Linked DNA regions of Homo sapiens. The protein of the gene in region 1 purifies or fractionates together with the protein of each later gene. This does not show direct contact. Each region holds a gene or a part of one and is shown on either strand. Other genes may lie near its edges. The genes, in order: KIZ, SCLT1 and BMX.

Region 1 (3,752 bases):
GGAAGCCAGGGTTTGGAGGCTGGTGGCCAGGTGGAGGAGCTGGGAGTTCCCAGGAGCTGGGAGGAACTGGGTATGAGGAAACCAGTTAGAGTTACTCCAAGAGCCTGTCCGGTCATGAGCAATGGGTGCTTCTGAGGATGAGGAGAGAGGCAAGAAACATTTCATTGGTAAAATACAGGGTGCTGATAATTAATTAGACATGGAGGCCAGGATCCCCTGCAAATTCATACTTGCAAATTACAATGCTCTGCCCCTGTGGTCCATGGCACCCGTGTGGTCCTGTCTGTGAAGAACTGAGCCTCCAGAAGCCCTCAGGTTCCACCCCAGGGACAGCTGCAATGGCAGTCCCTGTGAGCATGCCCGCTTCAGGACTCACATGAGGGTGCAAACAACAAATGCATGTCACAGAGTTTTTTGGTTAAAACAGAAAAAGAAAATCTAGTGTCCGATTATCTCTCTCACCATTAGATTTTAAATTGATCACGGGTTTCTTTTTGTTTTCATGCCTGCAAAATAAAGAAACAGTCTAAGTTCTGAAAAAGAAAAGACAATGAGACTAATATTTTCATAATGAACGCATTAGAGAAGAAGCACTTTGATTCACTGGAGGCCAGAACTTTACACTTACTTCCCAGAGTTTAAAAGTAAAGGGAAAATATCGGGATGCAGCGTGGCCTTGTCGGGAGGGTCGCTACTCAACAGCATTGCTCCCGTCCTGCGTGTGTCCCCTCGGCAGGTCTGCATGGCCCACCCCGCCCTGCTGAGCTGTGCCTGTGTGGGGCCACGTGTTCTTGGGGGAGGATGATCGCATGTTCCCCTGAGGCAGGGGACCGGTTTCCCTCAACAGTCTTCTGGAAGACAGTGATGCATCAAACTTCAGTGCTTTCAGGCAAGCTAAAAATGAAACACTTGCAGTAGGGAATTCAAGATGTTGGTAAGGAAGTTAAAATACTTAGTCAAACCAGTGGCAGCAATACTAACAGTTAAGAAAGGAGTTCAAAACAAACACCTGGTAGAGGGCCCTGCAAGTGTCACATAAATGCTAGTGTTCGTGGCGTCCAGGACCGTCTCGACTGAGGCCAATATGACAAGAAAACTGGCTCCACGGGATATGATTTCTCTGTGTGCCTTTTCAGGAGCTTTTGCAATTTTAATGAATTTAAAAGTCTCCTCAGGGAGTGTCACTCGAATGTTTTATGATGCTGAGATTCTTTCAGAATTGCCTGAATGGTCACAGGAGATGTTGGGAGAGAAACCATTCTTGGTGCATGGCTCGACACTTTGCCCTACCCCACGCACCACCACCGCCCTTCTCACAGCCAGGGCCTTGTTCTTCTGGACACAGGAAACCCTGCAAATATATCTTTTCCTTCCCTTTGGGCCAAGTGTGGTTGACTTTTGGCTTAAAAATCTACGTTTTGCTATAATTTACTTTTTTTTTTCAGAAAAACATGCTCCACTAAGGTATCATTTTCTAGGCTACCTTTCAGTGTTCCCTTTAAATTTAGTGCCTGTTTCTTTAATTGCCATGACTGAGTAGTGCTCACAGCCATTTCTCCATGAAGCATGGAAGACCCCTACGAGCATCTGGAAAGGCCAGCAGCTGACTGACAGTCCTGGAGCTGCCAGGATTGTGGGGACCTGTCAGTGAGGTGAGCCTGCAAGAACCCATTTTACAGAAAGTGACACACACATCACACACACACTAAATGCAACTGCAGGGATGTCTATTATTTCCCCACCTCCCCCTACCTGAGGACACTGGGCTAGGTGCTGCAGGGGAGGGTGGATTATAAAAATGCTAGGAGGGGTGGAAAGAGGCTAATTTGCCAGCCGCGGTCCATACAAGAAGAGCCACAGGGGGAGCAGGAGAGATCTCTGCCAGCTGGGTGGATGGAGAGCACTGTGGCAGGTGATTGGGGGAGCTGCAGGACCACAGAGGAAGCCCGGCACCTCCAAAGGCAGAGGCCTTCACAGGACAGGACTGGGGAACAAGGTGTGGCGGGGTGGGGCAGCAGGGAGCCCCTGACACAGGAGAAAGGACACAGTGGCAGGTGAGCTCAGCTCCTCCCGTCTCAGCAAATGGCACCCCTGACCCACTAGTCTCCCCAAGCCCCTCTCCAGTCTCCACTCCTCTTTCCTTCACATCCAGTCTGGCCCTCGGTCCTGCCAATTCCACCCCCACCCCTCTCGACCCCCCTGCAATACTTCCTGCAGTCCTCACCAGTTCCCTGGGCACTGCCAGTACACTGGTCAACAAAACTATCAGCTCTTGCTTCTCTCTCTGCAACAACCTCCTAACTGGTGACACACACTCATCTTGTCCCCTACTATCCATTTTCCACTAGGCAATGAGAGTGAGCTTTCTGAAATGCAAATCTGGTCGCTCCACTTCCTCGCTTAAAATTCTTCAATGCCTTTCCATTGATTTCTGCACAAAGACCTAAATCCCAAGCAGTGCCTCCAAGGTGGATCCCCCAGGAGTGTCGTGCTGTCCTGCTGGAGCCTTCCCACTTCTGACTCCCTATCTTTACCACTGAGTCCTCGTCAAGTTGCTGTTTCACATCCACTTGTGCAGCCAACTGACGTGCCAGTCCTCCCCCTCTGAACTGCAAGATCCATGCGGGTAGTGACCACACCTGTTTCAGCTCACCTGGGTAAGGCGGTGCACAGCACTTAACAGGTGCTTAATGAGTATGTTCACTTGGAATGAACAAGCGAACTTCACTAAGCATAGGGCCCTGCTTAAAGGCATTTGATCAATATTCAATTATATAATACTTGATTTACATATTTCTATTCAATATTGCACTTCAGAATCAAGTTTCTTTGGCTTCCCTGCTGGCAAAGAAAAAAAAATAAAAACCCAGAAAAGCTGAAGCAGAAAAAAAAAGGAAAAAGTCATGCACAAGGCTGTAAACACAGACACATGAGAACATCTATGCGAGTGTGTGTTAGTCGTCACTTAACTCATCAAAAGCAATCAGCCAGCAATGCTGAGTCCCACCACGGAGGTGACCCACTGAGCATTTCAGGGACCTCACTTCCGCATGTGGCACTCTAGGAAAAAATGATTTCCTGAAGCCATGTCTCTATGAGGCCACTTGAACTTGCTTTTTCTGTTTGTCCTGTGGTTACACAGTGTAGCTTTGAGAACATTTAAGCCACAGGGAGCCAGTAAACATCCCAGTGAAATGTGAATTAATTGTGTAATGCAGGGAGCCAGTAAACATCCTAGTGAAATGTGAATTAATTGTGTAATCGTTCTTAATTGTCTGTGTGATTGGTTTTCTCACAGGAAACATGTTTCAGAGCTAAATGTGCGTGGTGCGTGGCCTACCCACGGAGAAGGGCAGAGCGTACTTTCCAGTGTTTTGTTCTCCACTCTCGTATCTAAGGAGCAATTATTTTTCCTTTTGGGAAAATCTCTGAAAGTAAATGTGACCCTGCAATTCATAGTTGATTTTTTATTATACAGAATTCTTGGGGCCAACATTTTTTTCTCTAGGTCATACCTAATATGTAAAGCTAAGGCAAGGCTGATGGAGAAGCCTGAGAACTTTCTATTGTGTGCTGGATAGAGCCAACTACTTTGGCTACTAGAGTAGATGAAAGAAAAACAAAACTGCATTTCAGAAAGTAAAAGAAATCAAAGAGTTAAGGTTGTAGGCCATGAGATATGGTCACCATGTGGTCTTATGTGCTCAGAATCTAACTGTGTAATGTTTGCTGAGAGTGTAGAAGTAATGTTT
Region 2 (3,752 bases), on another chromosome or scaffold:
CTGTCCCACACTACTCTTACGGTGGCCAGTTAGCTGTTCTTATGGGGTGGGGATATTCCCACTGCAAACCTAAGAAATAATGCTAATGTTATTGTGTCATTATAGTGTCATTAATTATTTTAGATAACATATACCATGCACTTAATATGTGCCAGACACTATGCTCAATGCTTTTTCATCATCTCATTTAAGTCTCACAACTTCAAGAGGATTCTTGTGTTCTTATACTCATTATATAAATGAGAAAACTGAGGTGCAGAAAAGCTAGGAAACTTGCTCGAGGTCACAGACCTGGAAAGAGGTAGGCTGTGAGCCCAGACAGACTAAATCCAGAGGCTGACTGAGTTCTTAACCACTGGTCTATAATGCTACCAAAACGGAACTTACTACCTTTTTCCTAACTTCCCCGTTGCTCAAGCAAAAACTAAGTTGCTCTCTACCTCTTTCTCTCAAATCCCCTGATCTCCAGTCTCCCTGTGCCCAACTTAGTTTACTTCTTACCTGAATGATGACAGTAGACAACTAACTGCACTCTGCTATAATGCATATTCCCCGTAAAAATCAGACCGGGCCTTCTAAACTACAATTTGATCATGCCACTCTCAACTGAATTCCTATAACCCATGCAATGGTCCATACTCCTTAGCACAGAGAAGACAGGGCCCTTCACCATCCAGCCCCTTTCTACGCCTTCAACTGCACTTGCCATTTCCCTATATAAATATTCCAATTCAATTTACATCAATATTACACTCAAACCAGCCGTATTGCAAGTCTTTAACAAAGCATATTCCTAATCCCCTCAGTGTCACAAATATTGTTCTATTTGGGATGCCTAGAGTTTTTCATATAGTAAATTCATATTTGTACTGCACGTTTCAGCCCAATAGCACCTTCCTTGAACATATTTTAATAATAATCGTGTAATAGTTAATATTTGTTTAACACAATGTATCAGATACTATTCTAAATCCTTTACATATTTTAATATTCATTTAATCTTTCCAACAACCCTATGAGACTGTGGCAAAAGAGCCAGCAGTTGCTGTCACTTCAATATATTTTGGAATACATTTCCCTCCCCAAATTAAATTCTTGGAGGTAAAAACTGTCCTGTTTATCTTTGCAGCAGCTGTTCTTCCATAGTGTCTGGTACATAATAGAAACAGGAGTTCAATAAACATCTTTTTAATAAATGGCCAGAGAGCTGTGCCCCTAGATTTTAAATGCACACTTGGAAACTCCTGCTGGCCATTAGCCTTCTAATCTTCAGAGCACGAGAGGAGCATAACAAACATGTTTAGCGTCTAGTAGAATTCTGTGTAAGCTACAAGTACTACCACACGGTTCTGCTTAAATATACACACATCCTCACGTATAACATCAAGGTTTTTTTTTTCCTGCAACTAACTTCTTTAACTCTTTACCAATTTAAATGTACCCAACCAGCATTCAAAAAAGATTTGTCGGTCAACGACGACGATATTAAACATTGTATATGAAGTCTCAAAAAAACATGGAGCTTACTTTGCTCTCTCAGAAAGTCGATTTCTGCAGCCATTTCGATACAATTTTAGTTTAGAGCTTTCACCACCTTTACCTTCCTCTGAAAGACAGAGAGCTTGCTGTGCGGGAAAACAAAACTAAGCCAACGCTCGGTTGGTTGTCAAGCGCTCCAGCGGTGCAATCTGCATCCTACTCACGCGGCATCTACAGCCCCGCCACGCTTCTTTCCCCCGCGCCCCAGACGAGTCCCTGGCCCTGGTGAGAGACTGAAGATTGCTGGGGACTCCACGTTCAACCGAATCCCACGCTGGTGGGAAGAGGACGCGGTCGATACAGGCGTCCCGCGGGTCACTCTGGGTCTCGTCGGGCCACCTAGGAGAGTGCCGCGGGAGCTTGACGGCAGCCTGAGAGCGGCGTTCTACGCGGAGCGGCGGGGGTTGGAGAGGACAACGCCAAGACGGCTGGGAAGCCCCAGGCCAGCAGCGGAAGTCCACTCGGCCCGCCCTGCGACTTTGAAACCGGTGCCCCGGACCACTCCTTGGAGACGGTGGCGCCTCTTGCGTCATCACGCGGGCGTTGGAGCTTACGCCATCGCGCGTCCTAGAGTCCTAGCACGCTATTGGCTGGCTGTCAAGCAATGGGAGGAGTCGTGAGAACCTGGATGACAGCGGGCTGAGCCACCGGCTTGGCGCGGCGGCCAAACTGGTGGGACAGTGTCTCCAGGTAGTGAGGCCCAACCTCTTTAAAACAAACAAACAAACAAACAAAAAACCAAAATGCAAACGTGAGTAGAGAATGAAATACACAGTTTAAATGCCCTCACTATCTTTGGGTTACTAATATACTAAGCCTTTCTGGACTAAGTAAAAGATGCAGGTTCCTGCGGCTAGGGATAGAAGCCAGACTGGCGTCTTCAGAATCTCCCACCAAGGCTGTACCTCTGGAGGAGTTCTAGGTTTGGATTTGGTCATCTCAAGAAGGTAAGTACCTTCTCGGTCTTTGTGGGTCTTTAGACAAAGGAGACAACTGTTGTTTAAATATTTAACTGTGTAGTAATAAAGCGTGTAGTTAGAAGTACTCAAAAGATCTTGCAAATTCAGCAGCTACTTCTTCAAAGATAAGCTTGTTTCCTCAAATATAAGGAAAGATAAAAGGTACTTTTTTTTGCAAAAAACAAAACGGTAAAACTTACATTTGTGGATAGATTACAATTTTCATTTTTGAAAATTAATTTTGTCTGGACTTAAAACGTATTTTTTTAAAAAAAATCATTTAACATTAGAGGAAATCTCACCACTAGCAACAAAAATGTTAACTTGAAGCTAGCCACTAGTTTTGTGCTTTTAATAAATTGTATTTTTATGGACTGAAGTAAAGTTTCACTAAACAGGCATGTCATAGATGCAGCTTGATTTGGCTTTCTGTTTAACGGCTTAAGAGTTTTGTTGTCCCGTACTCATAATGTCATATAAACAAAGTAACCTTAGCGATATGTGTTAAGAAATTTTAAAAATGTATTCAAATATATGCAGTTAGGCATCTGAAGGCCTTACTCAATACTCACTGTTAATAGAATGAGATGGTCCCTTCCTCTAAAGACTAGCTGTTAAATATGGATGTGTAGCTTAATAATCATTGAAAAGGTCTAATCCAGCTTTGAGTTGGTGATAATTGAACTTGTTCTGATTTTTAGTAGCTATAACGTTTACACAAAAACTTTTTGTATAAACGTTATAGCTAAGGGAAAATTGAGTGTGCAAGGTCCAACTCGTTTTTGAAGTTCAGTATATGACTCTTTCTTCATAAACATCTCACTGACTCTCCAAGGACTTGCTTGTAACTTCTCCCACATTTGAACCTTGTATATTGTCGTATTTCTACTTGGCATCAAATAAATAATTATAGACTTAACTCTACGCTTACACCCAAACTGGATGGAAGCAAATACCTTCTGGCTATAACTGATGAGTGGTATTTACATAAAGTGAATATCTCAGGTGAAAACTTTTATGTCTGCACTCGAATTTTTTAGCTTACATGATCATAATTATGATCATGATAGTTTTTTGTTTTTGCGTTTGTGTTTGTGGTTACAAGATTTTAGTAGTTGAATTTTAATGGAGTATTTTCAACATAAGTTTCATCATTAGGAAACAAAATTGTGATGATTTCACTTATCCTTAAAGGATCCCCTCTCATGTTCCTCCTTTTCACATCTCCTGAGTTCTTTATCCACTTCTCCCAAG
Region 3 (3,752 bases), on another chromosome or scaffold:
TCATTTTCTCACAAAGAAGGCAAGAATCTTAATGCTAGTCTTTTTGGAGCTAAGTTTTGCTTTAGGTGTGAGATTAATCTTCAGTGCCCCATAGAGCTTTTCTAAGTCTTTTCTTCTTTTCAGTAACCTCTTTCTTTCTGCTCCCTCTCCTCTGCTTAGGGCACTCTCTCTGGGCAACTTCCTTAGGAGAAAAGCAAAAAGTAATAAATCCATGAGCTAGCATCTCATGCTGAATTAAACATGTAACACTGCTTTCATGATGCCGGTTAGTGCAAGTGAAAGCACCGAGCTGGGTTCGAATCCCTGCTCTGTCTCTATGGAATCTGTCATGTTACTTAACCCAGCTAAACCTCAGCTTCCCCATCTGTAAAGGCAGTGAAACAATAACCACTTCGAAGGGTTACAAGTAGTCAAGAGAAAATGGCAGCCTAATGCCCAACACCCTAGTAGATATTCTAAAAGCTTATGTCCCTTCTGATCACTCCATAGGCAAAGTTTTAAAAAGGACCATAAAAAGTTAAAAAACTAAAGACAGTGAAATAATAATGATCCTTAATGATAAAATTTTACTTCTCATCCCTCTGTCCCCAGCTCCTGGGTATAGGAGAAAATGGGAGGCAGGAAGACCTCCTCATGTATTGCCATGTCAACAAACACCAGTCCATACATAGTAGGTTTGTCGCAGACTTTCCATCCTGAGACGAGTTACCATAAAATGAGGTTGAACCATACCCTTATTGACTGTGTATTTGTGCCACCATATTTCCTACAAATAAATACTTGGATGTGACTCAAAGTGTGGTCCGTGCACTTGCATCATCCGGGCGATCATTAGACATGCAGACTCTCAGTTCCCACCCGAGACCTCGCGCAGCCAAATCTTCATTTTAGCAAGATCCCCAGGTGATCCACGTGCACAGGAAAGCTTGAGAAGCACTTACATGGACCACAAAGTTGCACTCCTTTTCAAATCCAATGAAATCATTGTGGCCCACAAAATCTTTCAAAATTATATGGATATGAGTACAACTGCATGGTTCACCTCCCTCCCACCTGTCTATCTCCATCTAAAATACACAAAGCACTTGATTTAGGGAGACCTCAGGAACCTAAGAGCAAATATTTGTAGCTAAAGTAACATCATAAAAACACAGTTAAAGAAGGTATAAGGAACATTTCTATGTCTCTTTGGAAGCAGTTATGAGGCCAATATGAAAGGCTATGGAAAGGCAATACCTAAAGAAGCGGATGGAGAAAATTAGCAGAGAATACACACAAAGCTAGGTAGAACTGGTGGTGATACATAAACAACCTGAGAGCTTCCCTAACTGAGATTTTGAGCAAGGAGTGAATTTACAGTGAAATTATAGCAGTTTCAGCCGTTGGCCTCCAAATTACCTGGTCCCATCTAAAGTCCCAGAGAAAGCCCTGGCAATTTCATATTAAAAATGTTGTACTATTTTTCTTAAAGTGAGCTTCCCAAAGTTTGTAACTTCAGGCCCCACAACACCGGGAACCAAACCTATTTTCCGCATAGTATGCGACACTGAGTAGCCACCTGCCGCTTAAACGCACCGTCTCAGCTTGTTCCGTGCTTGCCTGGGTCCGCCGCGGTGCTTGGTCTGCTGTTGCAGGAACACGGCCCCGGCTGTCCTGTTTCCAGAAGCAAATTGTTTCACATTTTCCTGGCTGCCGGGTCAGAAATGGCTACATTACTCAGTGCCCCCAACACGTTTATTGTCCTACAGAGCCTTACACAATCCCACAGGAAACCACGCTCAACACTTAGCCAACACTTGTTGATCTGATTGAACGCAACAAAAACGGAGACAAAAGCATACTTCATAAAGTTTCCAATTTTGATAACTATAGCTCCCACTTTTCCCAGGCAGCTCTCGGGTACATGTGATAACCCTGCCTTTGTTTGTAGAGCTCTATGCTGGAAAGGACAAGAAAATATCTCGGCAAAACCCGACTGCTGACGCTGACTTCTCTCACATGAGCCAGGAAACCATTAGGTAATGCAAAGTGCACAGAGAATATGCAATGAAAACTTCAACTCAACATTTGGACAAAGGAAGGCCAGAGAATATGTAAGAACAGTTCATATGATGGAAAAGGAGCTTATTTATATAGTTTAAGTTATTAAGAAATCCAGAAATGGAAAATAGATTGTTTTTGCTAAGGTATGGTACACCTAGATCGCAATGAAAAAGTGTGTCACTTGACATCATTATGACAGACTCACAACTTTTGGCTTCCCCCATTCCACTATTTTCTCTGGTGCATACCGGCTGGCCATCTGTAATAAATCTAAGGACATATTTTATGTCCTGCTATGGATAGCCAAGAAAAGTAATCATCCTTTTGGCATGCATTGACACACTGTGTTTACTTATAAATTGTTGCTTACTGTAACTTATTTGTAAGTATCTATGATGTGAAGAAGTCTTGGGTTGGCAGAAGAGAGTGAAGCTACTGGCTTTCAAAGAGGTATTCTTTTGAGTGTACATGGAATTAGCATCATTTCTATTAATTCGTTCAGTCAAGTCTTATTTGAGAACCTGCCATGTGCTGAGCATTCCGTTAGGGGTTGGAGACACAAGAGCAAACAGAAGAGAGGCAGCCCACATCTTCAAGGGGCTTATGTGTCTGTGTGGGGGGGGGGGGAACCACAAATAGTGGTTTAATTACAGTAGAGTATGGGAAAAATAACTTGCAGAAATATTTTTTAATATTTCAGTTTGGAAACTAGAATTTTGGGAAGGGAAAGGAGTCCTTCAGAAGAATTCAAAAGAGTGTAACTTACATTCTAATAGCAAATTAAAGTCACTGATGGATTCCAAATAGCTCTCCATTCTTTAGGAATATAGTAGGTAGTCATTCAAAAAATTAAGGGTGAAGCAGGGCAAGAGTGGCACAACAACCTGGCTAAATAAATTAATTCTACACTCTGCTAGTTAATTTCCTTTTCCACATGGCGATTTGTATTTACTTCACAACTTATATATGGTAATATGGCAAAAGTTCGATTCTAGAATAAAAAGTAAACTTAGGGTAGGGGAAGGAGGAGTTGGTGATATGGTTTGGCTGTGTCCTCACCCAAATCTCATCTTGAATTGTAGTTCCCATAATCCCCACATGTTGTGGGAGGGACCTAGTGGGAGGTAATTGAATCACGGGAGTGGATGTTTTTACCGTGCTGTCCTCATGACAGTGAATAAGTCTCACCAGATCTGATGGTTTTATAAAGGGCAGTTCCCCTGCACACGCACTCTTGCTTGCCACCAGGTAAGACATGCCTTTGTTCCTCTTTCACCTTCCACCATGATTGTGAGGCCTCCCCAGTCATATGGAACTGTGAGTCCATTAAACCTCTTTTCCTTTATAAATTACCCAGTCTTGAGTATTTCTTCATAGCAGTATGAAAATGGACTAATACAGTCGGTATAACTGTGGAAACACCTGGGCACAATCTCTTGGGATTTCCATCCCTTCTTGGGGGCATAAAACACCCAAGGACAGCTGGGAGGAGTGGTTTCCTCTAAGGCAAAATGTCACAGATTTATTTACTTTATTCTATTCATTCACTTCCTCTGCTACTTCTCCTGTTTCTTTGGCTCTGTATTTTCCATGAGTTTAGTTACATCCTAACTTTTGGCAATCTGCTATTACGATAATATGACTTCATTTACTCAAATTATACTCTGCATTGTCATCTTTACTCAGTTAGAATTTTAGGAATTTTCTCC

The links.
Region 2: the proteins of KIZ (region 1) and SCLT1 purify together in Homo sapiens (co-immunoprecipitation; 4 studies listed by BioGRID and IntAct, with this or other methods). This does not show direct contact.
Region 3: the proteins of KIZ (region 1) and BMX purify together in Homo sapiens (affinity purification with mass spectrometry; 2 studies listed by BioGRID and IntAct, with this or other methods). This does not show direct contact.

Annotation. Positions count from the first base shown.
Region 1 is NC_000020.11:21,240,999-21,244,750, reverse strand, and holds part of KIZ (centrosomal protein kizuna), read right to left. Parts: intron 507-3,752; coding exon 463-506; exon of another isoform or gene 1-462. UniProt on the Homo sapiens protein: Centrosomal protein required for establishing a robust mitotic centrosome architecture that can endure the forces that converge on the centrosomes during spindle formation. Required for stabilizing the expanded pericentriolar material around the centriole.
Region 2 is NC_000004.12:129,091,543-129,095,294, forward strand, and holds the start of SCLT1 (sodium channel and clathrin linker 1), read right to left. Parts: upstream 1,998-3,752; 5' UTR 1,562-1,997; coding exon 1,528-1,561; intron 1-1,527. UniProt on the Homo sapiens protein: Adapter protein that links SCN10A to clathrin. Regulates SCN10A channel activity, possibly by promoting channel internalization.
Region 3 is NC_000023.11:15,498,764-15,502,515, reverse strand, and holds the start of BMX (cytoplasmic tyrosine-protein kinase BMX), read right to left. Parts: upstream 1,710-3,752; 5' UTR 1,576-1,709; intron 1-1,575. UniProt on the Homo sapiens protein: Non-receptor tyrosine kinase that plays central but diverse modulatory roles in various signaling processes involved in the regulation of actin reorganization, cell migration, cell proliferation and survival, cell adhesion, and apoptosis.